Homo sapiens: one gene and its partners. The protein of the gene in region 7 purifies or fractionates together with the protein of the main gene of each other region. This does not show direct contact. Each region holds a gene or a part of one and is shown on either strand. Other genes may lie near its edges. The genes, in order: NAP1L4, GTPBP4, CTSH, DDX18, UFD1, FAF2 and SLCO6A1.

Region 1 (4,103 bases), on a different chromosome or scaffold from region 7:
GATTCTGATACATACTGCCAAAACAGTTACACAATAACATCAACTGTAATTTGGCTACTTAATTGAAGCTCTCTATTGCCTAAGAAATGTATCTCATAGCACCTTCCTTACCCCACACATACACACTAATTGCTGAAAGAAGCCTACTAACCTGGAAACATCTAACACTGTCAGTTTAATGGACAGATTCTTGTTGTCATCACCCTATCAGTAACACCTCGTAAAGACACATACTTCATTTCCAGCACCTCCTATACTAGCAAGGGACCTACATGTCAGGCACTTCATACATTTAATACCAAGAGAAACTCCACTAGGGAGGGACTATCCTCAGTTTACACGAAAAGAAGCTGAGGCTTGGAAAGGTGAGGTGCCAAATTGAAAGTCACACGGCTAGTAAAACATGCATTCGTGTTTCAAATCTGACTCCTTCTAACCTTTCCCTAGTACCAACACCACTTCACTTCTGGCTGTTTCTACTTGCTCATTAAAGATTCTGTTGCTGCTAGGCTGGGCCTGGGGGCTAACACCTGTAATCCCAGCACTTTGGGAGGCCAAGGCGGGCAGATCACGACGTGAGGAGTTCAAGACCAGCCTGGCCAACATGGTAAAACCCCGTCTCTACTAAAAATACAAAAATTAGCTGGGCATGGTGGCACTCGCCTGTAATCCCAGCAACTGGGAGGCTGAAGCAGGAGAACTGCTTGAACCCAGGAGGCGGAGTTTGCAGTGAGCAAAGATTGCACCACTGCACTCCAGCCTGGGCAACACAGCAAGACTCCATCTCAAAAAAAAACAAAAAACAAAAAACCTGTTGCTGCTATTGGAACAAGTGACAAGCAACAGCTTAGTCAGGGTTGAAATCCTACTGTTCAGCAGCATCTCCAAGAAATCCATTTTGTCTACAAATGGAGTGTGACAATACTCCCTTTTGATGCTGTTCACTATGCAGCCCCAGAGCCCCTAACAGTTCCTGGCATAATAAATATCTGTTGAAAGCATAAACCACCTGTGTTAGGACATGAGCCAAAGAGGTTCACCTTCCCATGGAATGGTACCTGTTCCAACTTAACAGAGTCCATTGATAAAATGATTCACTCAATTTTCATTTAAGTGAAGGCTGTGCTTTTTTAAAGAGACACACAGTCTCACTCTGTTACCCAGGCTAGAGTGCAGTGGCAGGATCATAGCTCACTGCAGTCTCAAACTCCTAGCCTCAAGTGATCCTCCCACCTTAGCCTCTCAAAGTGCTGGGATTATAGGACAGAGGCACCATGCCCAGCCCGGCATGTGCTGTTTAATACAATTTTTGTTAACAAGATGACAAGGCAGTTAAGTTAAACCCAACACGGTATTCTGGAAAAAAAAAAAAGTGCTAAATCAAGGATAGAAAAAAAATAATGAATTTACACAATAAAAAAGAAAATAATTTTGACTAAAGAACCAACCAACCCAGAACTCAATGCCTAGAACAAGACAGACACACACTGAACAGCCTGGTTTCAAATCCTACCCCTATCACAGATCACCTGAAGCTCAGGAGTTTCAGACCAGCCTGGGCAACATGGGGAAACCTCGTCTCTACAAAAACAACAAAAAAAACAAAATTAGCCAGGCATGGTGGTGTGAACCTGTAGTCCCAATTCAGGAGGCTGAGGCAGGAGAATCGCTTGAGCACAGGAGGCAGAGGTTGCAGTAAGCTGAAATAACACCACTGCACTCCCGCCTGGGAGACAGAGTGAGACTGTCTCAAAACAAAAAGAAAAAAAAAAAAAATGAGGCTGGACACAGTGGTTGATGCCTCTGGTCCCAGCTACTTGAGTGGCTGAGACAGAAGCAACACTCAAGCCCAGGAGTTGGAGGCCTGGCGGCTGCAGTGAGCTATCACTGCGCCACTGAACTCCAGCCTGGACAACAGAGCAAGACCCTGCCTCAAAAAAAAAAAAAAAAAAAAAAAGGCAACAAACCCTACAATGGCTGGCTATGCTCACCACCACGACCACAGCAGCAACCCAAACCCAGCCCTAGTCAGTGAAGATTTAAAAACCCTTTAACAAAGGCCAGGTGTGGTGGCTCCCACCTGTAATCCCAGTACTTTGGGAGGCCGAGGCGAGCGGATCATCTGAGGTCAGGAGTTCGAGACCAGCCTGACCAACACGGAGAAACCCGTCTCTACTAAGAATACAAAATTAGCCGGGCATGGTGGCGCATGCCTGTAATCTCAGCTACTCAGGAGGCTGAGGCAGGAGAATCTCTTGAACCCAGGAGGCGGAAGTTGCAGTGAGCCGAGATCTCGCCATTGCACTCCAGCCTGGGCAACAAGAGCGAAACTCTGTCTCAAAAAACAAACAAACAAAAAACTAACAAACACACTTCAATGGTCCCCCGTCACCTTCTGCAGAATACACATTCCTACCAATTCAGGCCCTGTCTACTTCCCCATACTCATTCCCACTCATGCTCTTCTGCATAACCTTCCTCTGGACCTCAGTTTCATCATCCACAAACTAGAAGACAGTGGCTACCTGAGAAACTGTTAATGGAGACAAATTTCCTAGTACATAACAGCAGGCCAGGTCTCTTTTCACTTTTGTAACTGCCATGCATATAGACTACATCTATTCCTTGATATGAAACCAACAAATCAAGTTACTTTAAACACTGCACCCTTTATACAGGTTGAGTATCTCTTATCTGAAATGCTTGGGACCAGAAGTGTTTCAGATTTTAGAATATTTGTATAAACATGATCAGGTATCTTGGGGATGGGACCCAAATCTAAACATGAAATTCATTCACGTTTCCCACACATCTTATTCACATAGACTGAAGGTAATTTTATACAATATTTTAAATAATTTTGTGCATGAAACAAAGTTTTAACTGTGATCCATCACGTGAAGTCAGGTGTGAAATTTTCCACTTGTAACATTAATGTCAACACTAACGGAGTTTCAGAATTTGGAGCATTTGGATTTTTGATTTTGGGATCAGGAGTGCTCAACCTGAATAAGGAAAGACAATGTAGAGAGGTGGTATTATAAACAAGCTAGAGTTCAGTCAAGTTTCAGCACCACAAATTATTTTTGTTTATCAATCCCTATCACCCTTAAAACAGAAAGTTATAAGGAACTATCAAATATACAGGTTTGAGGAAAATAAATATCTGTTTGTTTTAAATGTTATGTTCAGTTTAATACTAGTCTTATAAAACCACAGCCCGAAGACTCATCCAGAAGGTTCTCTCACTTTTAAAAGGCAATCAAGGGATCTATACAACCTGGTGACTATAGTTAACAACAATGTATCACATAATTGAAAAATTGCTGAGAGTAGATGTTAAGTGTTCTTGTCAGAATCAGTATACCACCTAATGTGAATTAACTTGACTTAGCCATTCCACAATGTATAGTACTTCAAAACATCGCATTATACATCATAAATATAATTTTGTGTTAATAAATAATAACTAAAAATAAATAAAAGACAATCAAGTTAAATTATGAAAGGGATACCAGGCAAAAGAATGTTGTAAGTTTTCTAAAGTTCAGGTTCCCTCCCAAGGTCAAAAACTTTAACTGTGTCTACAATTCTAAATCTGAACTGGCAAGCAAATTTTCACCCAGTTAATTGGGTCGAGGAAAAATAAAATAAAATAATTCCCATGATTACACAAATGTTCTTTTATTTATATTAGTCACTGTAACAATCCTATTTATGGATTAATTTCTTTGTACCCCAAACAACTGTTTTCTTATGAAATTTTTAAAGATTTTTGTAACAAAATATAACCTTAAATTCCTAATTTTGAACTGAAAACATCTACTCCATAGCTAGAGTAACTATAAAATTGGGCCATGGCCAGGCACGGTGGCTCACGCCTGTAATCCCAGCACTTTGGGAGACCAAGGCGGGCGGATCACATGAGGTCGGGAGTTCGAGGTCAGCCTGGCCAACGTGGTGAAATTCCATCTCCATTAAAAATACAAAAATCAGCTGGGCATGGTGGCACACGCCTGAGGTCCCAGCTACTCAGGAGGCTGAGGCAGGAGAACTGCTTGAACCTGGGGGGCGGAGGTTGTAGTGAGCCAAGATTGCCCCAC
Region 2 (4,103 bases), on a different chromosome or scaffold from region 7:
AAACCGGGCCACCAGTCATGCACTGCTAATGAACTTTCAGTATGTGGCTCATGTGACTGAGGAGTTGAAATTTTCATTTTGCTGAATTAAACTGCAATTTAAAAAGCCACCCAGTGCAGTGGCCACCAAATCGGCCACAGAGCACTGGCTCAGAGCTCAGGGCAGGTTCAGAGCTGACAAGCATTTGAAAAATCAGCAAGGACCCTGCAGAGCTTTGCTGGTCACCATGTCACAGCAACCTGTAGACAAAATAAAACTCACAAATCTATTTCAAAGCAAAAGTGATCTTAAGGTAGGGTGGAGTGATTCATGCCTGTAATCCCAGCACTTCAGGAGGCTGAGGCAGGAGGATGGCTTGAGCTCGGGAGTTTGAGATCAGCCTGGGGAACACAGTGAGACTCCATCTCCACAAAAAATAAAAAAATTAAACAGGTGCGGTGGCGTGCACCTGTGGTCCCAGCTACTTGGGTGGCTGAGGTGGGAGGACTGTTTGGGCCCGGAAGGTTGAGGCTGCAGCGAGCCATGTCTGCACCACTGCACTTCAGCCTGGGCAACAGAGCGAGACCCTGTCTCAAAAAGAAAAAGTTTCAACAAAAAGAAAGAAAAAAATTTTTTTAATTAAAAATAAAGTGATCTTGGCACTGAGTAAGCCATAAAATTTGACCATTTTCTTGGCACATGAGCTGTTGCTGGTTGTAAATTCACATTTTAAATGTTGCTTTGCCTCTTCCTGAGTCCCTGAAACTCAGCCAAACTTTCCTGAAGCAACAAATGACCGAGTCCCTTAAATGTTACACTTATCCTAGTCAGTGAGCTCACCCAGGGAAAGAGCGACTCGGCACCGTCCCTCTACTAGACCACATACGATTTCATGTGAAAGCTGACACAGCAACCAAGGTAACAGATCACTCAGATGCAGCTGCAGACGGGAAGACCCCAGCTGGGTGAGTGTCACCTGCCACCGGAGCCCCGCTGGCATAGCCACTCCAGGACAGGCCAACAACACCCAAGAAAACCTCCCCAGTTGTCAACAAAAATGCACTTACATGTCTCAAATTCCTTAGAAATTATAGGACACACACAAGAACAAAAAGTAATGGCTTCTGTAATAGTAATATAAATGTAGATACAGACAAAGTAAATCCTCACCAAGAGGAGCTCGGCGTGCTCAGGCACCGGGAACTCCTGCAGACCAGGGCAGTGTTTTACTCAAGGACCAACTCGGAGGCCGAAATTATTACCAAGGCCGTCCTGAATCCCACGCAGTCAGAATACAGTTAACACTGACCTACAAGGCCATCCTGAATCCCACGCCGCCAGAATACAGTAACACTGACGTAAAATAGTCAGATGATTTGCTTTACGATAAAAACCAGACCAACCTTGTTGATGAAGCTGGACTTCCCAACATTTGGGTACCCACACAAAAGCAGGGTCCTGGTATTCGGATCAATGGTTGGCAAACGGGATAAATGCTGACGCACTAGGAAAAGTTCAAATTGAAAAATTAAGAAATTCAAAGTTTAAGATTTGCTTTAAATTTTCTTTTCAACTTAGTTACAGTCCAGGCCTATGGTGATATTCATCTTACTCCAACTTTTGTAATGCAAAAGTGATGGAGAAAATAGTTGCAGAAAGTAATAGTATACACATAGTATATTCAATTGCTATCTCCCAAGTTTGGCTCTGGTAAGAATCATATTCCTCAGCCCTTCTAAGCCCACGTTTTAATTCATTAGGTGACAGGTGGGGCCAACAGCATGTCTGGCAGTGTCCAGACAATTCTCATTAGCAAGATGACATTAGGGAACCAGTGCACTTTGAAGCCTGCAGGCCATGCCGTTTGGGCTACAACATGGGTTACTGCCACTCTGCCACCTCGTCTGTAACAAACACGGCTCCAGGGTGGCACCCCGGCCATCATGAAGACCACACAGATCTGTAGCAAAGCACCTGCAAGGCATCCAAGTATCACAAATTTTGTTAAAAATTATTTCTAAGATGCAGGAGAGAAAACAAAACCGAATGAGTCAAAATAATTTGTCATGTAAGAATACACACAATAAGCAAGTAATTGTTTCAACAGAATCCTAGTACATTAATTCAGAAAGTCCTATTAAATACAAGTGTTTTTAAAAATAAAAAAGTCAATAATAAACTATGAGCCACCTTAGTTTTTATACTTTTCAGTATTTTCTCGTGACTTTTTTGTGTATGCCTTACCTATTAAATATGAAATATATAAATTTTCTTATCAGTGCTATTGATTTGTAAGTATTTATTTTCAATAAAAACCAGCCTATTACTGTTTCTCATAGGTAAAGCTAGGAAGAATAACTGACCCTGTCATCTCCAAAATACAAGAAAAACAGACATCTCAAGTCCTCAACAAGGACGCATCCTCTCAGCAGGATGCTAGCACGGTTCCCGCGGATGCGTGACAAGCACCTTGCTCCAAATACTCCAAACTCTGCTTCTGCCTCTTGATCACTGTGCACATCCGTCCCAGGGCCGCACGCTTCAGCTGTTTGCAGCGGTAGAGAGAGTCGCCATACTTCATCAGTCGCACATAATCTTTAGCAACACTGTAAAAAATAAAAAATATTATTTTTTCCACTTTCGATAACTTAAAAGACACTACAGAAAAAAGTACCTTACTTGTCCACTAAATTTTTGGCAATATTTATTTGCCCCAGAGCCAACTTGTAATGATCCTTGTCGTAGAGAATATTCATCAAATCAGCATAGAACGGATGAATATCCTGTAACAAACAAAAGCACACCACGGTCACTTGGGGCCAGCAGTTTTTCATCCCTACCACTTGAAGAACAATTTCTTTCCCTCTCCCTCCACGCCTGCAGTGTCTCCTCCCCAGTTCCCTCTCCTGGCCAGGGGCCCTGTCTATTTAGTCCTCTGAGAAAACAGGCATCAGAAGGGATGCGGGTGCCGACAGTCACGGCTCCCACCCACCTCGCTCTCAGTGCAGTGGTAGAGCTGTGGGACCCAGCAATGACCAGCCCCCGACCCTGCATGTACCCTTCCTGTTGCTCAGGAACTCAGCACTAGAAATTCTTCCCTCCACCTGACTATTCCCATCAGCCTAAAAATTTGCTGTTATTTCTCAATCTTTAGGAAAAAAAATCAAAAATTCCCATAGCCCCAAAATCCTTCCAATTCCCTCTCTTTGCTCCCAAGACACACTGTGTCTCTCCTCTCCTCCCTCTCTTGAACCCACTCTCTCCAGAATTCTGTGTCCACCACTCCATCTAAACAGCCTACAAGCTCACCAAGGACCTCCCAATGACCAATTCTCAGTTTTTATCTCACAGACCTCTTGAAACGCTGCGGGCTGGCCATGCATCCTGCCTGCGGTATTTTCCTCACAGCTTCTAGGTGGAGAGTCTGACCCCTCTAAGTCCTGTGCTGGCTAGTGCTCACAGCTCTACCCCAAACATTCATGCTCCCCACAGCACCCTTCTTCCTACATTCCCTTCCAAGGTGATCTCAGATAGATTTAAATGTCGTCTACATTTTACTAATGCATTTTAAATCACCAGGCCAGCATCTCCTGAGATATCTCACCAGTGCATATAAACTCGACCCTTGACTACCACCTCCAATCCCATGTCCCAGTGTTCACCTCCCTAGCCTGCCCCACCTCCTGGGTCTCCTGCACCTGCTGCTTCTTTGACTACAGGCCTGACACCCTCTCCCCGCACAGATACTCCCTACTCCCTTCCATGGCTTCACTGCATTCATCTGACATGCTATTTACTATCTTTTCTCCACCAGAATGAGAGCAGGAACCTTTACCACTTCTGGATTCCTAGGACTCAGAACAGTACCTGACAGACAATAAGCATTCAGTGAATGACAACTTAATATCTAACCCTCCACTCTGAAGCTGTTCTCAGATAACTAGTCCTGGCTTTAAAAAGAGTAATAGAATGTTAATACATTTGAACTCTCCTACCTCTGATGGCTATAACACTGAGGATGAAAAAGACAAAACTTCTTAAAAAGAACCACAAAAATCTGATACTAAGTAGATCAAAGTATGTTGTTGGCTAAAATCAAATATTTCCTAATATCAAATCAGTTA
Region 3 (4,103 bases), on a different chromosome or scaffold from region 7:
TAGAATAGAATTCCATCCAATGAAGTCTATTATTATTATTATTTTTTTTTTGAGGCTGGAGTGCAGTGGCATGATCTCAGCTCACTGCAACCTCCATCTCCCAGGCTTAAGCGATTCTCTTGCCTCACCCTCCCGAGTAGCTGGGACTACAGGTGTGCACTACCACTCCTGGCTAAATTTTTTTTTTTGTATTTTTATTAGAGACGGGGTTTCACCATGTTGGCCAGGCTAGTCTCAAACTCCTGACCTCAGGTGATCCACCTGCCTCGGCCTCCCAAAGTGCTGGGATTATAGGCGTGAGCCACCATGCCTAGCAAGGTGATTGTTTTTTGTCTTATACAGTTGTGGTCTTATGTTACTAGAATTTTCTAATAAATTAAACTATATTTGCATTATCTAAATAAGCCTTATCATGAACATATATATTTTTCAAATATTCTCAAGCCTTTAGCTTTTCAGGAAGCCCAAATAAGATGACAGCTTTTATCATTAAGAAAGTCTGTGAGCCATAGGACAAAGAGCTGGTGGACTCCAGCTTGTTCTACAGACATCCCAGAGCCCGGAGGCTTCAGGAAGCAGCAGCAACTTCATGGCCGCCCTCTAAACAGAGATCAAGATTTCTCAAAAGGCAAGATAAGGGAAGGGATGGTGTGGAAACGACAGGAGCATCTGGGCACGTTTGAAATAAATAAGGGGTTGGTGAGGAAGGGGTGGGCAGTCTCATGTGGAGGTGGGGGGCAGAGTCTGAGTAGGAGTAGGCAGCTGAGACTGGGGAGGCCACACAGAGAAGTACAGGCTTCTGGGCTGACATTGTGGGTTTGAATCCTGCCTCTGCCGCAGCTTGGCCCGTTTTTCTCCTTCCTCCCCACCTCTCCACTCAGGTTTGGGACAAATAGTCAAGATCTCAAATTAAGCCTGCTCTTCATCCTGGATACCCCATCTGGTGGATAATACCGCCAGCACCCCCACCATCCTCCCAGCCAGAGCCTGGACACCCCCTGATGCCTCCCTCCTGGGAGACTGAGTGGCGAGGACAGACCTGGTTTGAGTCATGGCCCAGGACCAGCATGCTCCATCTGGGGAGGTGCTCACTCAATGTTTATTGAACAGCGAATACAGAAAAGACAGTCCCTGGAGCTCTATATGTGGAAAGTAGCCCTTCTGGACAGAAAGAATATTCGTGGTCCATGTGGTTTGAGTCTGTTAAGAAGGACACTAAGGCACATGGCTGGTGATCTTTGCGTCATAGACACGGGTGAGCTCATGGTGGAACTCCTCCTTGTCTGTAGGTTTCCAGGCTGGGCACAGAGGTGAGGGCAGAATGTTGGGGGTCCCAGTGGATCTCCCCACAACTTCCTCCAGGGCAGGATTTCCACCCAGGCCCAGGCTGCCCGTTCCTCTCCTTCTCCGCCAGTCTGCGCTGCGGCTGCCACGGCTCACACCAGAGGGATGGGGTAGGAGGCGCAGGCAGCCAGGCCACACATGTTCTTTCCGCGCTCGATGAGGAAGTACCTGGGCAGAAAGAGGAGCTGAGGCCCGGCCGGCGGTCTCCCCACCACAGGCCTTTCTAGAATGTTTTGCTGCTCACCAAGAGCTGACTTCAGGGGTGAGACCCTCTAAATTTATTCATAAAACAGTAGCATTCGGCTTATTTGATCACCGGCAAATCACGGACCTGACTTTGTGAAGAATTCATTCTTCCCTCTCCTTAGCTGCCAAATGAATGATCCATATCCCACTTCTCCCGAAAATTTACCGAGGGCCCCCTCTTAGCCCTGGCCGGGCCCTCACACAGCTATTTTATCACCAGGAGCCCGAGGGAACAGGAAAGCTCTCCTTTTCAGACAAGGACATGGAATCTGGGAGGACAGGACAAAGGCACAGCAGCATATACACCCAGGCCGCCCCATGCCAGCCTTTTCTCCCGGAAGGAGGGGCTGTCAGTGATCAGGGGTACATTTGTTGCTTTGATTTCTCAAAGACGGACCCTCCCAGACACTGATTTCGTGCCAGCAGAGTTCCAAGTTCTGAGCTGTTTTCCTAGCAGTCCTTCTGAGCCAGCTGGCCTCCTGCTCTCCCTGCAGCGTCCTAAAGACCTGGGGCCCTGTGAGGGCTGCAAATGGGGGCTTGGAAATGTGGAGGCTACATTCTCATGCTCCCTTTCCCCCTGGCCTGGCCTAGGGCTTGGCTGACCAGCTCGTCTGTGGAAGCCGTAACTCTGAGGTGGAAGTGATGCCCCCAGGGCCTCCAGGCCTGAGCAACATCCCCCTCCCAGAAGTGGGACCTGGGAGCTGCTTACCCGTTCATTCCCCACTGGGGACCCCAAGAGTTTTTCACGATCCAGTAAGGGATCCCATTTTTTTCTCCATACCCAACAGCCAGTACTGCATGGTTTACTTTATCTGGAGTTTTATGGCAGGAAGTACTGGAAAACAAAATTCAAAAAGAGGTGATCATATGGGAAGGATAAAAGCAATGACAGTCCCATCCAACAACGCCTCTTTGAGCGCTTTAGAGCAATGTTCCCCACAGCGGACCAGGGAGGCATGTAAGGTGGTGATGTAATCACATTTAGTCTCCGTGAGAGAACTCCTTTCAGTTCTTTTTTTCTTTTGAGACGGAGTCTCACTCTGTTGCCCAGGCTGGAGTGCAATGGTGCAATCTCTGCTCACTGCAACCTTCACCTCCAGGGTTCAAACGATTCTCCTGCCTCAGACTCCCGAGTAGCCTGATTACAGGCGTGCACCACCACACCCAGCTAATTTTTGTATTTTGGGTAGAGACAGGGTTTCATCATGTTGGCTAGGTTGGTCTCGAGCTCCTGACCTCAGGTGATCCACCCACCTCGGCCTCCCAAAGTGCTGGGATTGCAGGTGTGAGCCACCGCACCCGGCCCTTTCAGTTCTTTTGGTTCTTCTGCTTCTGTCAGGAGAATCTCCATATGGTGCTGGCCCGTGTCTCACCCCTGACACTTTCTACTCCCTCTTTCCTGGCAAGGAGAGAGCCACCTTCCTGCTGCACCTTCTGTAGGCAACAGTGTCTGGCAGACTTTAACACAGCTTTGCTTTGTTGCCACTGCATTTATTAAATATTACTTTATACCTATGGCAAAAATACAACTTTTTCTGTTTACAAAAGTGAACTAGCCTCCATAAGGAAATTCCAAGAAATTCAAGAGAACAAACTGCAGTGGTCAGGTGTGAATTCAGCTGATGTGTAAGTGGGCCATAGGCTCGCGCCAGGGCCAGGTGCCGGGATCCAGGCAGCATGCATAACTGTCCCTTGGAAGCCCTGTTTGGCAGGGAGCAGGTTGGCAAAGAGGCTGCTTCTCTACAGTGGCCTGAGGGCTCTGACAGTGGGAGGGCGACAGAGCCCCCAGGAGGTGGGGGGGATCCAACCCAGCGGGGGGGGGGGGGAGGGTGGGCAGGGTGGGTCAGGGAAGGCTCCCTGTGGAGGCGGGGAACGCCCATGGAACTGCGAACCCTTCTGCGTGGCTGGGGTGGGGGCTGCAGGGTGGAACGGCGGGGACGGGTTTGATGGCAGATGAGTGTGGAAAAAGAGGGAGGACCAGATCATGAGGGTCCCCCTCAGGGTAGGACCCTGGGAAAGCAGGGACACTGGTGTGTTCAAAGGTTGGCGTTGGCAAGAGGAGTGTTTCAGAAGGCAGACAGCTCCCAGTGGAAGCTGGAACAGTGTGTGGGGGGTTAGGGGGTCCAAGGACAATGGTGACCAGGGCAGAGCCTCAGGGAGGGAGAGGAGAGCACAGACGTGAGTGACATTAGTGAGTGACGTTAACGGGCAGCAACTGATGAAGGGAGGGAAATGAGGCTGCAAACCAGGCAGGCGAAAAGGTGTGGGTGAGAGAAACCCCATAGTAAAGAGGCTAAAGCTTGGTTTTTCTGAAGAAGCCTGGGGTGACTCCTCCAGCACAGGATCCTAGTGTGTGAGGGCAGCTACTCTTCTCCCTATTTTACGTCTTCAAATCTTTAAACATGGGTATTTTTTTTTTTTTCTGAGACAGAGCTTTGCTCTGTCACCAAGGTTGGAGTGCAGTGGCACGATCTTGGCTTAGTGCTACTTCCACCTCCTAGGTTCAAGCCATT
Region 4 (4,103 bases), on a different chromosome or scaffold from region 7:
GTGTCTTGCACTCTTCGAAAGTCCTCATACCCCTCCACACCCAGCAGCGCTCCCCCACACAGGATCCATCATCTAGTGGTGATCAAACTACTCAGAACAATGTTTCCAGGAGAGGGCAATACCTCCAATCCTACAATCTATAGGATTTAATAAGCATACCCTGTTTTCAATGAGCTCATCATCATCACTTACATGAATGGCCAAGACGGGCAAATCAATGTAGTTCAGCAACTCATAGTGGTATTTCACAGACATACAAGATGAAAAGAAGACCATAAGCTTCTTCTTTCGGTTCTTCTTAAGGAATGTAAAGAGCAGAAGGAATCTCTTTTCAGAAGGACAAACAACATATCCCTAGAAAGCGTTTAAGCAGACAGATACAAATGAACCAAGTGGACATTTTCCATTTCCTAACTTGTGTAATTTCATCAAGAGCACTGATAAACACAGTGTGTAAACTGTCATGCCTCACCTACAGCATTTTAAAAGTTCATTAACCCATTTGCTTTCTGAATGATCCTTCCAACAATTACATAAAAACACCAAGTAAGATCCCTACAGTTTTCAGTTATTGATAAAAAGTACCTGTTCAAGACCATCCACTGTTGCATTCGCTTTATCATCATCAACGCCAACATACAATGGCTCCTTTTTCAGAGAAATCCTTGCCAGGTCTTCAACTTTTCGAGTTTGGGTGGCAGAAAAGAGCATAGTCTGTCTACGTGCTGAAACAGATACATATAAAAATAACCCCAATCTTTTAGGGAATCTTTACAATTGCCTCACAACTACAAATATTCTAGGTAGAGATATCAGAAATGGGAGATATGATGTTTCTACAGAATCTACAAATATTACAAAAGGTAAAAAGGGTATATCATGAAACACTAGGTCTATAAATTTGAGGACTTAGATGAAATGGACAAACTCCTTTGAAGACAAACAACTGAAGAAAATAGGAAAACTTTAAATAGCCTTATATCTACTAAAGAAATTTTAGTTATAACCTTCATGTAAAGAAAATTCCAGGCCCAAATGGATTCCATTGGTGAATTCTACTGAACATTTAAGAAAAAAACATCAATTATTCACAAACTCTCCAATAAATTAAAAAGAGGGCTTACATGTCAACTCATTCTTCGAAGTCAGTCATTACACTATACAAAAACCTGACATGACATGACAAGAAAACTATGGACCAATACAATTCGTGAGCACATATACAAAATTTGAAATAGAATTTTAGTAAAGTGAATTCAGCAATATATAAAAAGGATAATGGCTCATGTTTATTCTAGAAATGGATCAGGTTTATTCTAGAAATGCAGGTTGGTTCAACATTTGAAAAATCAACCAATACAATTCACTATGTTAACTAAAGAAAAAACATGATTATTTCAGCAGACAGAAAAAAAACATTTGACCATCTATTTCTGATTAAAAATCCTCAGCAAACTAGGAACAGAAGGGATCTTCCTCAATCTGATAAAAGGCATCTATATAAAACCTGCAGCTAACTTCATATGTAGTTAATGGTAAAAGACTGAATGCTTTCCCCTAAGATCAGAACCAAGATAAGGATGTCTGCTCTCACCACTTCTATTCAGCACCATACTGGAGGTTCTGGCCAGGGCAATCAGGCAGGAAAAAAAAATTAAATAAAGAGGTGAAACTGTCTTTATCTGCACATGATTGCCTATATAGAAAATCCAAAAGGCTACAGTCATCTGGAAAGTCATACTGAATAATCATTCGGTACAGGATTAACTGTCTTGCTAGATACAAGATCAATATAAAATTCAACTGTGTGTGCATATATATGTGTGTATATGTGTGTGTGTATATATGTATATATTAAAGCAACGAGCAATTGGAACTTGAAATTTTAATGAAACACTCAGAGATAAATCTGACAAAAGATGTGAATAAACCTGTATCCCGAACCCCCCTAAATATGATAGAGAAAATATCGAATACATGGAGATATACCTTATTATGGGTTACATGACTCAATACTGTCTTCCTCCAATAATCTCTATTCAATAAAATCTCAGTCAAGATCTGAGACTTTTTTGGAGGGAAGGGGGAGAAACTGACAAACCAATTCTAAAATTTATATAGAAAAGCAAAGGACAAGAATACCACAACTTTAAAAGAGAACAAACTTGGGGCTAACATTACCTGATGGTCAAGACTTAATAGGAGGAACTGGAACTTTCATACACTGCTCATAGGAATGTTAAATGGTACAGCCGCTTTGGAAAACATCTGGCAGTTTTTTAAAAAGTTAAACATACACTAAACATATACCAACTAGGACACTCCTAGGTTTACTTAAGAGAAAAGGAGATATATGCCTCTACAAAGAGTTGTAGATGACTGTTCACAGCAACTTTATTTCCAGAAAATGCAACCTAATCTAGCAGCAGAAAACAGATCAATACTCACCTGGGGACAAGGTATACGTGTAAGGAGGGGTGGGAGGGAGAAATTGAAAAGGGGCAGGAGGAAACCTTTGACTGTGATGGACATGTTCATTTTCTTGATTGCAGCGATGATGTCACAGTGGTAAACAAATCAAAGAACATCAAATTGTACATTATAAATGGGTAGATATAATTATACTTTGACAAAGCTTTTAAAAATAAATTATATAATGAAGGAAACCATGGTCTTAGTTATAACCAGTTCATAATGTTGCAAGTACTATAACCAAGGTATGTACAAGTAAGGCAAAAAATCTGCGGCTTCTTGGGGGATGTTAGATGAGGTAAGAATGGGCAAGAGGTGGAGGACAGGACCTATGTGAAGACTGCTTAACGTGCCTTATAACTTCTAAAACAGCAAAACTATTATATCAAGTTATAATACATTTGATGCTTGTATTCCAAATTACCTTTCGGGTTAATTGGCACAACTACCTCACTTGGCTATGGTAAAGTTCTGGCATTAGTACAGTTTTTCTATAGGAACAACTCTTATCTACCTCCAACAGATACTTTGCAAACCAAATGCAGATGCTACCTACTTACTTGGCAAAAGTTTAATAATTTGCTTTAATTCCTCTTCAAACCCCACATCCAAGATACGATCAGCTTCATCAATAACCAGACACTGCAGGTTTTTATACATAAATCCTGGGGTATTCTAACAAAACAAAGGACAAAGAACAACCATTAGTTGTCAGTTTATGTTTCATACAAGACAATGAGACAAGCACTACATCTCTTACCTGCATATGGTCCAGCAGACGGCCTGGTGTGGCCACAATGATGTTGATCCCATTACCAAGTTTCTGTGCTTCAGCAGATCTGTTACTGCCACCCATTATCAAGCCATAGGTATGCACGTGGTGAGTCATCAGCTCCTTAAGAACACCAAAGGTTTGCATGGCTAGTTCTCTAGTAGGTGAGAGAATAAGGACTCCTGTTCCTAAAAATGATATATGGTAGAAGTCTAAATGTGGCTGTCACCACTGAGTCCGTAACAGCTACAATAAACCTCTAGTGAAATAATGGCAGAAACAAGCAGATGAACGCTTACCATTCCTGGGCATGAACCTTAACTTAACAATGAGTTCAACTGCAGGGATGAGAAAAGCCAGGGTTTTACCACTGCCTGTTTTTGCAGCTGCTAGAAGATCCCTAAATATTAAAAAGGGAAAGGAGAAAGACATTTAGCCTACTCATTTACGACGTACTACATACACACACCTTAGGCACTACGGCTAGAACATGAACAAGAAACGTCTACAGTGCTGAAATTGATCACCTGGGTTATATACTGAAATCATAAGTCAGAACTGTGCTACAACAGAAGCAGAACACCTTTCGAACACTTTCCTTCAAACATCAGTAATTAACTTAAAGCCTTTAATGTATGCTGGATACATGACCCAACATATAGTACAAAATCAACAGAATATACTGGTATGTTCTTTATCATCTACTAGTTCTAAAAATAGATGCCAATATCTAAGCTTCAATGTTAATCATACCTGCCTTCCAGAAGTGGTCTGATACTTTTATGCTGAATTTCAGTCATGTTTGTAAAACCCATTTCTTTTATTGCCTTCAGAGTGTTTTCATTGACAAGATTACATA
Region 5 (4,103 bases), on a different chromosome or scaffold from region 7:
TGGCATCCTCCCAGGAGGGAAGCAGAAAGTAACTGACTTCTTGGTTTGGTATCAATATTGGGTATAGGGCCAGGGGCTTTAGGCTCTGTACCTGTCTATGGAGAGGGGTCATCTGAAGGATTGGGAAGCCCTCACTGTCACTGTCCTGAGCTTCACAGAACCCCCTGAGGTGGCTAGACTCTCACTCCAGTATTCTGATTTCACACACACAACAGACAACTGACACACCTCAGCCCTGCCCCTGCCATCATGGCCACCAGAGGAAGGGTCTGCTGTGGGTCCCCGGACCCAGCAACAGAAGCACATCTGAGGTAGCTCCTCAGGGAACTTTCAGGGGAACTGAGATAATGTGACCTGATTAATAATTCCAAGTCACAAAACAGGAAAATAGGCAGATCACCAAATAGGGACCAGAAAGGTTTTGAGTAAGAGACAGATCTAATCAGACTCGCATCTTAGGAAAGCCAGTGGGGGCAAGAAGAGGCTGAATTGGGGGTATGGAGAGGTATGGAGAGAGGCTGGACCACAGTGGTACTGGGGGTGGCACTGTGGAAGGAGGGGCATGTTGTGCTCCACCCCACCAAGGAGAGCAGCTAAGGGTTTTAGTCCCTTGGGAGACTACTGACCCAGGCTTTGTCTCCAGAACTGGGGTGAGGCTGCCCGACCCCAGCGGGCTGGCACAGATCCTCCTCCTGTCCTGGAGGAGAGCCAGGACAGACCTACCTTTTAATATCTCCAGGCTTGATTGGGGAGGGGCTGGGCTCTACCCCTTTCTTCTTTCCATCCAGTCTATTGCCAGATCCAGAGAAAGCCTAGACAGGAAGTAGGTGAGTCATATAATAAGCCCAAGTGTGAGGACGATATGTCCTTTGCTTGGAGATCACTGCAGGGATGTGAGCTGGGGGTGCTGTGCAGACCCCTTCAGGACTGAAGCCCTGACTCCTCAACTGCTGGGGTGCTGGCAGCTAAGAACTCTGCCCAGTTCCTCAGGGGGTGGCCATGAGCTGAAGACAGCCACTTGGCCAAGGGCAGCCAGCAGTCAGTGTTGGGTTAAAAGACCTGATCCCTGCCTCTGCAGGGCCACCCAGTTCAAGCTCTATGGGTGGGCTAAGGCTACTGTTGTGACTGCCCCATAGCTCAGCTTCCCATCATTCTGCCCTCTCTGCTGCTTCCTGGCACCTCCTGCCACCTCAGTGCCCACACATGAACCACCTCCACCTGTTTCCCATGGAGCCTTGCCAGTAGTTATGCTAAGGGTCATGTTTGCAACCTACATGGTACAGGCAAAGAAAAAAGGAAACATGATTTACAAGAGAGAGAAAGCAAATGTGGTAACTTTTGGTGAACCTAAGGGAACAGTATATGTCTACTGTACTATTTAAACTCTTCGGTAGGTTAGAAATTCTTAAAAATCTGGGCTGCCTTATGGGGCTGTTGGGAAGATTCCAGGAGAGAGTGGATACAAAAGGGTTTGGTAACTGAGCGAGTGGCAGATTTGCATATGCACAGGTACCCAGAGGCCTAACCCCTGCTGATGTCCATCGAGCATCATGGAGAACACCTTGAGTGAGTGCTCTAATTTCAAGGAGCAGAGGGCACAGCAATATAAGTCAAGTGGTCTGGTACTCACGCGGAAGCCCAGCTCTCCAGCATAGCCACTGTGGTCGGCTTCACCTTCCTGACAGGGAAAAAGAAAAACAGGTGAGCTCCTCAGCGGGGACACCCAGCTTCCCTCTCACCCCCACCCCCGGCTAGGATGTCCCCCGGAAGCATGGCTGGAAGGGACGCAGAGGATATGACTACACCAACACTAGCAGAGGCCACCCACGAGCCACTGCCAGGAACTCAAAAGCAGCATGCAGCAGGACAGCAAAGGACACTGAGGATAACACTTACTGTCGACTCCTCATGCTGGACTTGTCTTTCGGGTTCTTTGTAGCCCAGGGGAGCATCAAAGTCCACCTGTGTTTCCAGGATTTTAAAAGTAAAATATTGAGACATGACCACCCTTGGCTTCCTTTTTTGTTTTTAATTGAGACAACTGTAGATTCACATGCAGTTTTAAGAAATAATACAAAAGATGCCTTGTACACTTGCCCAGTTTTCCCAACGGTAGCATCTTACAAAATTACAGTAAAGTATTGCTGCCAGGATATCAACACTGGCACAACCCACTGCTCTTATTCAGATTTCCCCAGTTTTACATGTTTTTGTTCATGGGTATCTTTAGTTCTACACAATGTAATCACTGTGTGGGGCATGTATCCACCACAGTTGAGATGTAGAACAGTTTCACCACCACTAGGACTGCCCATGTTGTCTTTTTATAACCATACCCAGCTGTCTCCCAGCCCCCTCCACCAGTCCTAAGCCCTGGCAACCACTGGTCTGTCTTCCATTTCGAAAGTTCTGTCACTTTGAGGATGTTATATAACGAAGTAACTTTTTGGGATTGGCTTTTTTTGCTCAGCAGTATTCCCTAGTAATACAACCAGGATGCTGTGTGCATCAGCACTTCATTCCTACTCAGAAGGTTCAGTACGCTTCCTTAGCTCTTAAGCATATTCACTCCTCGGCCAGGCGCGGTGGCCCACACCTGTAATCTCAGCACTTTGGGAGGCCGAGGCGGGTGGATTACCTGAGGTCAGGAGTTTGAGACCAGCTTGGCCAACATGGTAAAACCCTGTCTCTACCAAAATACAAAACTAGCCGGGCCTGGTGGCACATGCCTGTAATCCCAGCTACTCGGGAGGCTGAGGCAGGAGAATCGCTTGAACCTGGGAGGTGGAGGTTGTAGTGAGCCAAGATCGCACCACTGCACTCCAGCCTGGGCAACAGGAGTGAAACTAAGTCTCAAAAAAAAAAAGAATATTCACTCCTCAACGGGTCAGAGCTAACCATGGCAGCACTGGCAGCAAACTCTGTTGCCCCAACTGGCCCTGAGATAGATCACAAGGTCACAGTCTCCTCATGATGTTCTGACAGCATCTTCCTCCTCTTTACCCAGAGTCCCAGGGGCTGTTTGATGCCCTCCTGACACCCTGGCCTGCAGTGGTCACCAACTGCCCATCCTCCCAGGGCCCAGGCTCACTGTAACTGGACAGAGCCACTCACGTTCATGTCACACTCAATGATGGACACTGCCTTGTCGGGTTTGGTCTCCATCACACGCAGTTCGTAGATCTGTGGGGCAAACACAGAAATCAGTTGGATGGTTTCCTGGCAGCACTGGAGCTGTCGCTGTCCATGTTACTGTGGCTCTACTGGCTCCTGCGAATGACACAGCATTCATGCCCATGACACAACCTACAGCTGCACTTCTTGCTGTGACAACACTGCCATAAGGGACAGGCTGCCCTGTGCCCATCGCTGAAGAGATGCTGTTCCCCAGATATGGTTCAAATTAGACAAGGTAGTTATACAGCTAACTGCAAAAGACACTAACAACCTTTAACCTGGAAAGTTCACTTCTGGAACTTTACTATTTATTTTATTTATTTATTTTTAGACAGAATCTCGCTCTATCGCCCAGGCTGGAGTGCAGTGGTGCGATCTTGGCTCACTGCAACCTCCGCCTCCAGGGTTCAAGCACTTCTCCTGCCTCAGCCTCCCTAGTAGCTGGGACTATAGGCATGTGCCACTACACCTGGCTAATTTTTGTATTGTTGTAGAGATGGGGTTTCACCATGTTGGCCAGGCTGGTCTCGAACTCCTGACCTCAGGTGATCCGCCCACCTCGGCCACACAAAGAACTGGGATTACAGACATAAGCCACCGCACTCGGCCTTCGAAATTTATTCTAAGTAAATAACTAGCTATACCCAATGAGAAAATTCTAAGAATGCTCATACCAACGTCACTAATACCACTGTACAGATGCTCCTTGACTTATGATGGAACCAAGTCCCATAAACTTATAAGTTAAAAATGTATTAATATTCCTAACCTACCAAACATCATAGTGCAGCCTGCCTTAACCATTCTCAGAACACATACATTAGCCTACAGTTGGGCAAAATCATCTACTATAAAGCTTATTTTATAATAAAATGTTGAATAACTCATGTAATTTATTGAATACTGTACTGAAGATCAAAAACAGA
Region 6 (4,103 bases), about 74 Mb from region 7:
CCTACATTGTATTCTCTGAGGATGGCTTTTCTTGGGATTGTACAGTGAAGCACTTTATATCCCAGCCACCCTAAATAATACATGCCATCTGAATCCAGGCAGTACGCTTGCTGCATAAATGTAGCTTCCAGACAAGTTTCCTCGTCTCCTCTACCATGGATGCATTCTGGAGTGACAACTCCAGTTGCCTCCAAGTACAGCCGGTTAACAGGCCCATGAAGGTGCACTCCTCAGTGACCTTTTGGTGTATTCATGACCATCCTGTTTTGGAATACCACGCAATAGTTGCCTCACCTCTTGTTGTTGGTTGATTTGAGCATCGCTGAAACTCTTGCCACTCCGTTTTCCTTCTCAGGCTGCTGTACAGGACAGATTGAATGAGCAAGAGGGCGTACCTAGTGTTTTCAACCCACCTCCATCACGACCCCTGCAGGTTAATACAGCTGACCACAGGATCTACAGCTATGTTGTCTCAAGACCTCAACCAAGGGCAAGTTATTTCATAGCTGGGATTTCCCCCTTTTTTATTTATAAGTATATCCACTTGGTTATATTGATCTCCCTGTGACAGGAGCAAAACAAATATTTAGAATGTAAACCTGTTAGTTAGACTTGGCCCGTTGGGTGTATTATTTTGCCTTGATTCCTCAAGGAATTGTTACAGAAACTACTCATTTTTTTTTTCTTTTCTTTGCCAGTTATTTGGAGAGTGTTTTCTGCCTCTTAAGTTACAATTTGTTTACTCAAGTTCTTTGTTGCTTCAGTTTACTTAATCTTAAACCAGTTTTGAGGAAGTATATGGAATCTTTGTAGGAGCTTTGGCCACGTCTTTGAAATTAGCCTTGAAGGGCTAGTAGCAAGGAGGTGGTTCACTTAAATTTGACAGACATTTAAGAGTACTCCAATAACCTGGTATCTTGCTACTAGGGATCCAGACATGAATAAAGAGCCAGTCTTCCCATTTCAAATTCAATTTCTCACAGTCTATTGAAGGAAGTCAGATGTGTACACTGATAATGAATTCTAAAGAACTGCTTGGACTTTCTTTTTCTTACCCCTGGGGTTATACTCACCTCTTATACTTTTATACTTGCATTTAGAATCCTAAGAAAACACTCCCTTTAACATTGCAGCAGTTAGAATTTACTCCATCATCAAGCCTTTTTGTGGAGTACTTGATTTTTGTTGTGTTTTGTTCTGTTTGAGACAGGGTCTCACTCTGTCGCCCAGCCTGGAGTGCAGTGGCATGATCTTGGCTCGCTGCAGCCTAGACCTCCCGGGCTCAAGCAGTCCTCCACCTCAGCCTCCTAAGTAGCTGGGACTACAGGTGTGCGCCACCATCCTGGTTAATTTTTGTATTTTTTGTAGAGATGGGGTCTTGCTATGTTGCCCAGGCTGGTCTTGAACTCCTGAGCTCAAGTTATCTGCCCACCTCAGCCTCCCAAAGTGCTGGAATTACAGGCTTGAGGCACTGTGCCTGGCCTACTTGATGTTTTAAAACATGTTTCTAAGTAGTGCTCTGTGGTTTTCTGAAGTACAGTAGCAGATTCCCATGTCAGCCATGGGGCTCCAGAGCTTCCTGGCCACAGACACAGAAAGTGTCTCAGGTTAACACAATGTGACAACTATGAAATGCTTTATAAACTATAGAGCCCTGGATGTATGCTAGTTTTAATAATTAATAACAGCAATAATAATTAGCATTATTACTAAGATAAGCAGCTATATGGGGATTTGTCATTGTGGTTAATATAATTATTTAATGTTTATATACCAATGTCCAAGGTTAGTAATAGTGATTATCTTTCTTGCTATTTCTATATACATTATTTTAGGTTTTTATGTTTGTTTGTTTTGTTTTGGGACAGAATCTCCCTCTGTTGCCCAGGCTGGAGTGCAGTGGTGTGATCTCAGCTCACTGCAACCTCAGCTTCCCAGGTTCAAGCGATTCTCCTGCCTCAGCCTCCTGAGTAGCTGGGATTACAGGCGCCCACCACCGCGTCTGGCTAATTTTTGTATTTTTAGTAGAGACAGGGTTTCACCATGTTGGCCAGGCTGGTCTCAAACTCCTGACCTCAAGTGATCTGCCTGCCTTGGCTTCCCAAATTGCTGGGAGTACAAGTGTGAGCCACCACACCCAGCTAATTTTTGTATTTTTAGTAGAGACAGGGTTTTACCATGTTGACCAGGCTGGTCTCGAACTCCTGACCCCAGGTGATCCATCCGCCTCAGCCTCCCAAAGTGTTGGGATTACAGGCGTGAGCCACCAAGCCTGGCTTATTTCTGTATACCATATTTTGATGTGTAAATCTAAAAAGGAAAGAATGAGTGTGTATCATTTGGGGAACATTAATTTGCAATTGAATTTGACAAGTCTATAAGTAGCTGCCAAAAATAAGTATTAAGGCAGTTTTGGTTTTTATTTGTTTGTTTGTTTTTTTGAGACAGAATCTTGCTCTGCCCCCAGGCTGGAGTTCAGTGGCGCGATCTCAGCTCACTGCAACCTCCGCCTCCTGGGTTTAAGCAATTTTCCTGCCTCAGCCTCCCTGAGTAGCTGGGACTACAGGTGCATGCCACCATGCCTGGCTAATTTTTGTATTTTTAGTAGAGATGGGATTTCACCGTGTTGGCCAGGCTGGTCTCAAACTCCTGACCTCAGGTGATCTGCCCCACTCAGCCTCCCAAAGTGCTGGGATTACAGGCAGGAGATACAGCTCTGGACCTTAAAGCAGATTTAATACAAAAATTCTGCAAAAAAAAATGATAGTAAGATGAAATAAGACCAAAGATGGTGGCACTTAGAAGGATGAGGTGGCCAGGAAGAAGGAACTGTACTTTAGAGGAACAAATCACATGGAAGGACCAAAAAGAGTGAGAAAATCTGACCTAGCCATTTGATAAAATATTAGGGATTGAGAGAATTGTCTCTAACTTTGTTTTTGGACTTTCAGGGGCTGCTTGGATGGGGTTATTACTTGATAATGCTTCCATTCCGGTTTACCTATTACACGATACTTGATATATTTAGGTATGTACCTTTGGATTTATGTATTAGTAGAATAGTAAGACTTTGGAGCTGAAATTTAGGCCAAAATAAGCTTTATGCTCTATCAATGTTGACTTACCAATTTGTCATGAGATGGAATACACTTCCCGAACTGTCTTTTAATACAACATACAAGTATTTTAAATTGTTGAAGCATTGGCAGGCATTGTGAAATGGAATTGTTTTTAAATTAGTCTTACCTTTTGTTTGCAAAAACCAGTCTGACTATATTTATTTGTCTCCCCCTCCCCCCCCCACCATATTTGTCACCTCTACACTTCCTAGTTGATGTCCACACCCTTTCCTTTCTAACCACTATCATCTCCTAGCTTCACACTCCTTAGAACTTTCTTCCTCAACTACTTCTCCTCCACCTGACTACTCACAATCCCAACAAATTCTCTTGCTCTGAGATTACCCAGTTTGCCCTTGATTCCTCCCACAATAGTTGGACCTCCCTAGACACTCCTGTTACACCTTTTCTTTCTTTTTCTTTCTTTTTTTGAAACAGAGTCTTGCTCTGTCGCTGTCACCCAGGCTAGAGTGCAGTGCCACCATCTCGACTCACTGCAACCTTCACCTCCTGGGTTCAAGCGATTCTCATACCTCAGCCTCCCAGATAGCTGGGATTACAAGCATGCGCCACCACGCCTGGCTAATTTTTGTATTTTTAGTAGAGACAGTAGAGATGGAGTCTCATTTTGTTGGCCAGGCTGATCTTGAGCTCCCGGCCTCAAGTGATCCACCTGCCTTGGCCTCCCGAAGTGCTGGGATTGCTGGCATGAGCCACCATGCCTGGCAGCTTCGGTACCTTTTCACTTTGCTCTGGCAGCCCCTAGGTTGCAAACACTGGAACCCTTTTATGTATATACCCACTTGCTTCATACCTTCACCTTTCTTCTAGCTTCCTTCATGTACCATTAAAAGAGCTCATCATTGGAAGCTACAGAGGGTCCAAGGCCAGAAAATGAGTGGGGCTCAACTGGCCGGGCTCTGTGGCTCACGCCTGTAATCCCAGCACTTTGGGAGGCTGAGGTGGGCGGATCACAACGTCAGG
Region 7 (3,467 bases):
CACCACCATAGTCAGTCCTTTGTAGTATTAAATGCTGGGGCTCACCTTCCTCCTTTAAAATGTAGGTCCTTGAGGATATGAACTCCAAAAAGAGGCCAGTTTCATCAAAGTTAGAATTCCAATATTTAGAAGTATCTTTGCAGCTTCTTCACCTGCACTTACAGTATCCTTAGGTACATTAATACTCTCAAAAGTATAATGAACCTTGATGGCATTAACTCATTCAAAATTGACTCCAAAGGAAGGCACTTCTGTGGGATTTTTAGCATTTTTTAAGATTTAATTTATTGCTAAGATCTTCTCTATAATAGTGAAAAACTTCCCCTGATTACTTAAAGAGGTATTAAATTGGAATTAACCAATAGAACTTCTGAGTTATATTTACATTACTTCCCTGTTTATCAATCCTCCATGAATTAGTTTGTGATACAGAAACACGTACTCTGTAATAGCAAAAATCTATATTTAAATTTAAAGTTTCAACAGTACTTCCCAATCCATAATTTTTATTATACCTTCACTGATTTATTTTCTGAAAAAAAAGAAAGCAAGAGAAACATAAACAGGTAATATGTATCTATACACACACACACACACACACAAACACCCCACAAACACACTGTACAAGCATGTTCAAAGTGGCTTTGAATGTTATTATTTTACTTTATTTCCTAGTTGTATAATTTTTAATATTTCTAGACAGCAGAATATTAAGAAGAAATGTAAATAATCTAAAATTATTAAACTTTAATTCTCCCAGTAAATCCTAAAAATTCTACATACATTAAAAACATTATCAGAAATGTTTCACAATAGGACACTTTATTATGAAAATGCAGATCACCATAAATATATTTTTGCTACTTATGTAAACATAATGTGTGATTTTCCTCTTCTGAAAGTTGGGCACAGAAACAAATCTTGGAGAATCTGTAAAAGAGAAACTCGTTTTCACACTCTGATCCTCAAATGATCTGCAATCCTGCTGGTTCAAACAGAGAAGAGTCAAGCAATCAAGTAGAGTTTTACATGAAGACTAGTTTATAGGTTTTTAAAATGCATGTTGAAATAAAATATACAACAGGAAATAAAAATGTGTAGTAAGATATGAATATTCCCTGCTTCACATTTTCTTCTGCTAGCCACGACCATGAATAGGGCAATGTCTACCCATCCACATAGGGTCATTGACTAATGTTAATAACAGAGGAGAAATTTTGTCAGCTATTATCACTTCTCCCAAGAAAACAAAGAAACATTGTAGAGAACCTTGTTCCACAACAATCTGATTTTTATACAATATTTGGAAAATCTAATTTCGATTGATGTACAATAATGTATAAAAAATTATAACAAAATCTCTATACAAATGCATTTTAGCTTAAAAAATCTATAAATAGTTGACACATTTTCTACATTTAAATATTTCTTCACATTAAATAATTACGATTAATTATAAAATGAAGTGTAAAAGCAAGCAGAAAAGTGGGTTTCAACTCAGATTATCAGCTAGTCTTTATCAATAAAATCCAAGTGAAGGTAAAAAAAAAAAGGAAAAAGGTAACAAAAAACAGGTAGAAGTATATGAGTATATTGAATTTTATGTTTACTAAGATTAACGAAACATCAAAATATTTATTATAAACTGGTCAATTAACCAAAGAAATTTTCTGAGGAAACCTCTGTATGTCAAATCATAGATAAATAAAATGTTAATTTTTAAAAGGTTTAAAATAGTCCTTTTTGGAAAATAAATATAACTTTAATTTCAACTTTAATTATATGAACTTAAGTGGCAAATATACTTTTATTTAGAAAAATGGAGAAATAAATATCTACTGCCCAAATCAAAAGTACTAAGAATAAGCTAAAAAGGGAACCTAATTAATTCCAAATAGCAAAGGCCAACAACTAATGGGCTATCACGTCAGTTAAAATTAACCTAGGTGTATTTTCCTATTTTCACTCAATCTCTTTCAATCAAAGTATTATCTTTCATTGAAAGTATTAAATGTGTATTTTATATTTTTAAAAATTTTAAACACAGACTATATTATTATATTTGCACTCAAAATATAATAAAATATATAGAATTATATGAAGCACATTTGTTAAACATGTAATTACATTATTATTACTTTAAATTTTATTAATATTAATATTTCATTGATAGATTGACAATGTGTAATTCTTACACAATGATGATCCAGTTACAAGTCAGTTTCTTCTTTTTTCTTAACTTTTGGATTCTTCACAGTTACATCTGGGAAGTCAGTGTTCTCATTTAGACGACGTTTGTATATGAAAAATGCAATAGTAGTGAAGATGATAGTGCATAGTTTGCAAAGAAAACCTAAATTTAAAAAATGCAATGATCAGATATGTCCATGTATTTAGAACAAAAATGTAGGCAAAAATGCTATTTACCAAAGAAAGGTAAGCATATTTCACCTATAAAGGTATAAATTTCCCAATTTTAGAATGCAATTAATGCCATAAAATTATATTAAGTTACTTAAAGGAGATTTTTAAATGTTTATAATATGTTTTAGATTTCTTAGACATATTACCCCCTTCCCAAGTGCAAGGTGTGCTATTACCTCATAGACTGTGTTAATTCTGAAACATGAAATATAAATTCTGACTTTCAAAACTTAGCTATCAATAGGAACCAGAGCTAAGTCATTTCATGCAGCTTTGCTCTTTTTGAAATATTCATCATTTTTCAAATAAAACAAATATTACAGAAAAGTTCATTAATTTTGCAGGTTTTTTCATTTTCATGTTTCAAGCTGCAGAAAGTTAATACATTACAACATTACAAGCATTATACAAATGTACTTGAATATTGGATGCAATATTTAATTAATTCTTTTTCAATTTTTTTAAATTAATTCTTTTTTTTTTTTCTTTTGAGACAGGGTCTCACTCTGTCACCCAGGCTGGAGTGCAGTGGCACGATCTTGGCTTACTGCAGCCTTGACCTTCCCGGCTCAAGCGATCCTCCCACTTCAGCATGTGCCACCACACCTGTCTAATTTTTATAGTTTTTGTAGAGACGGGGTTTTGCCATGTTGCTCTCTCAAACTTGTGAGCTCAGGCGATCTCCTTGCCTTCAAATCCCAAAGTACTGGGATTACAGACAGGAGCCACCACCATGCTTGGCCTATTTTTCTTTTTCTTGAAACAGGACCTCCCTTTATTGCTCAGGCAGGGGTACCCCTAACATAGCTTACTGCAACCTGAACTGCTGGGCTCAAGTGATTCTCTGGCCTCAGCCTCCTGAGTAGCTGGGACTACAGGTGGTGACACCACACCTGGCTAATTTTTTAGAAATGGGATCTTGCTAGTTTGCCCAGGCTGGTCTTGAACTCCTGGCCTCAAGTGATCATCTCGCCTTGGCCTCTCTAAGTGTAAAATATTTTACAGTCACAATATCAATTATCTGACATAATGGTTTCAAGATA

Evidence for each region.
Region 1: the proteins of SLCO6A1 (region 7) and NAP1L4 purify together in Homo sapiens (affinity purification with mass spectrometry; one large-scale study listed by BioGRID and IntAct). This does not show direct contact.
Region 2: the proteins of SLCO6A1 (region 7) and GTPBP4 purify together in Homo sapiens (affinity purification with mass spectrometry; one large-scale study listed by BioGRID and IntAct). This does not show direct contact.
Region 3: the proteins of SLCO6A1 (region 7) and CTSH purify together in Homo sapiens (affinity purification with mass spectrometry; 2 studies listed by BioGRID and IntAct, with this or other methods). This does not show direct contact.
Region 4: the proteins of SLCO6A1 (region 7) and DDX18 purify together in Homo sapiens (affinity purification with mass spectrometry; one large-scale study listed by BioGRID and IntAct). This does not show direct contact.
Region 5: the proteins of SLCO6A1 (region 7) and UFD1 purify together in Homo sapiens (affinity purification with mass spectrometry; one large-scale study listed by BioGRID and IntAct). This does not show direct contact.
Region 6: the proteins of SLCO6A1 (region 7) and FAF2 purify together in Homo sapiens (affinity purification with mass spectrometry; one large-scale study listed by BioGRID and IntAct). This does not show direct contact.

Annotation. Positions count from the first base shown.
Region 1 is NC_000011.10:2,982,233-2,986,335, forward strand, and holds part of NAP1L4 (nucleosome assembly protein 1-like 4), read right to left. Parts: intron 1-4,103. UniProt on the Homo sapiens protein: Acts as a histone chaperone in nucleosome assembly.
Region 2 is NC_000010.11:994,588-998,690, reverse strand, and holds part of GTPBP4 (GTP-binding protein 4), read right to left. Parts: intron 2,763-4,103; coding exon 2,659-2,762; intron 2,586-2,658; coding exon 2,449-2,585; intron 1,484-2,448; coding exon 1,383-1,483; intron 1-1,382. UniProt on the Homo sapiens protein: Involved in the biogenesis of the 60S ribosomal subunit. Acts as a TP53 repressor, preventing TP53 stabilization and cell cycle arrest.
Region 3 is NC_000015.10:78,920,694-78,924,796, forward strand, and holds the end of CTSH (pro-cathepsin H isoform a preproprotein), read right to left. Parts: intron 2,426-4,103; coding exon 2,300-2,425; intron 1,513-2,299; coding exon 1,437-1,512; 3' UTR 365-1,436; downstream 1-364. UniProt on the Homo sapiens protein: Important for the overall degradation of proteins in lysosomes.
Region 4 is NC_000002.12:117,821,191-117,825,293, reverse strand, and holds part of DDX18 (ATP-dependent RNA helicase DDX18), read right to left. Parts: coding exon 3,998-4,103; intron 3,645-3,997; coding exon 3,544-3,644; intron 3,433-3,543; coding exon 3,233-3,432; intron 3,148-3,232; coding exon 3,033-3,147; intron 726-3,032; coding exon 586-725; intron 355-585; coding exon 193-354; intron 1-192. UniProt on the Homo sapiens protein: ATP-dependent RNA helicase that plays a role in the regulation of R-loop homeostasis in both endogenous R-loop-prone regions and at sites of DNA damage.
Region 5 is NC_000022.11:19,454,957-19,459,059, forward strand, and holds part of UFD1 (ubiquitin recognition factor in ER-associated degradation protein 1), read right to left. Parts: intron 3,184-4,103; coding exon 3,115-3,183; intron 1,963-3,114; coding exon 1,897-1,962; intron 1,679-1,896; coding exon 1,631-1,678; intron 813-1,630; coding exon 724-812; intron 1-723. UniProt on the Homo sapiens protein: Essential component of the ubiquitin-dependent proteolytic pathway which degrades ubiquitin fusion proteins.
Region 6 is NC_000005.10:176,486,000-176,490,102, forward strand, and holds part of FAF2 (FAS-associated factor 2), read left to right. Parts: intron 1-355; coding exon 356-490; intron 491-2,951; coding exon 2,952-3,028; intron 3,029-4,103. UniProt on the Homo sapiens protein: Plays an important role in endoplasmic reticulum-associated degradation (ERAD) that mediates ubiquitin-dependent degradation of misfolded endoplasmic reticulum proteins.
Region 7 is NC_000005.10:102,371,142-102,374,608, forward strand, and holds the end of SLCO6A1 (solute carrier organic anion transporter family member 6A1), read right to left. Parts: intron 2,354-3,467; coding exon 2,211-2,353; 3' UTR 2,196-2,210; intron 986-2,195; exon of another isoform or gene 983-985; 3' UTR 633-982; downstream 1-632.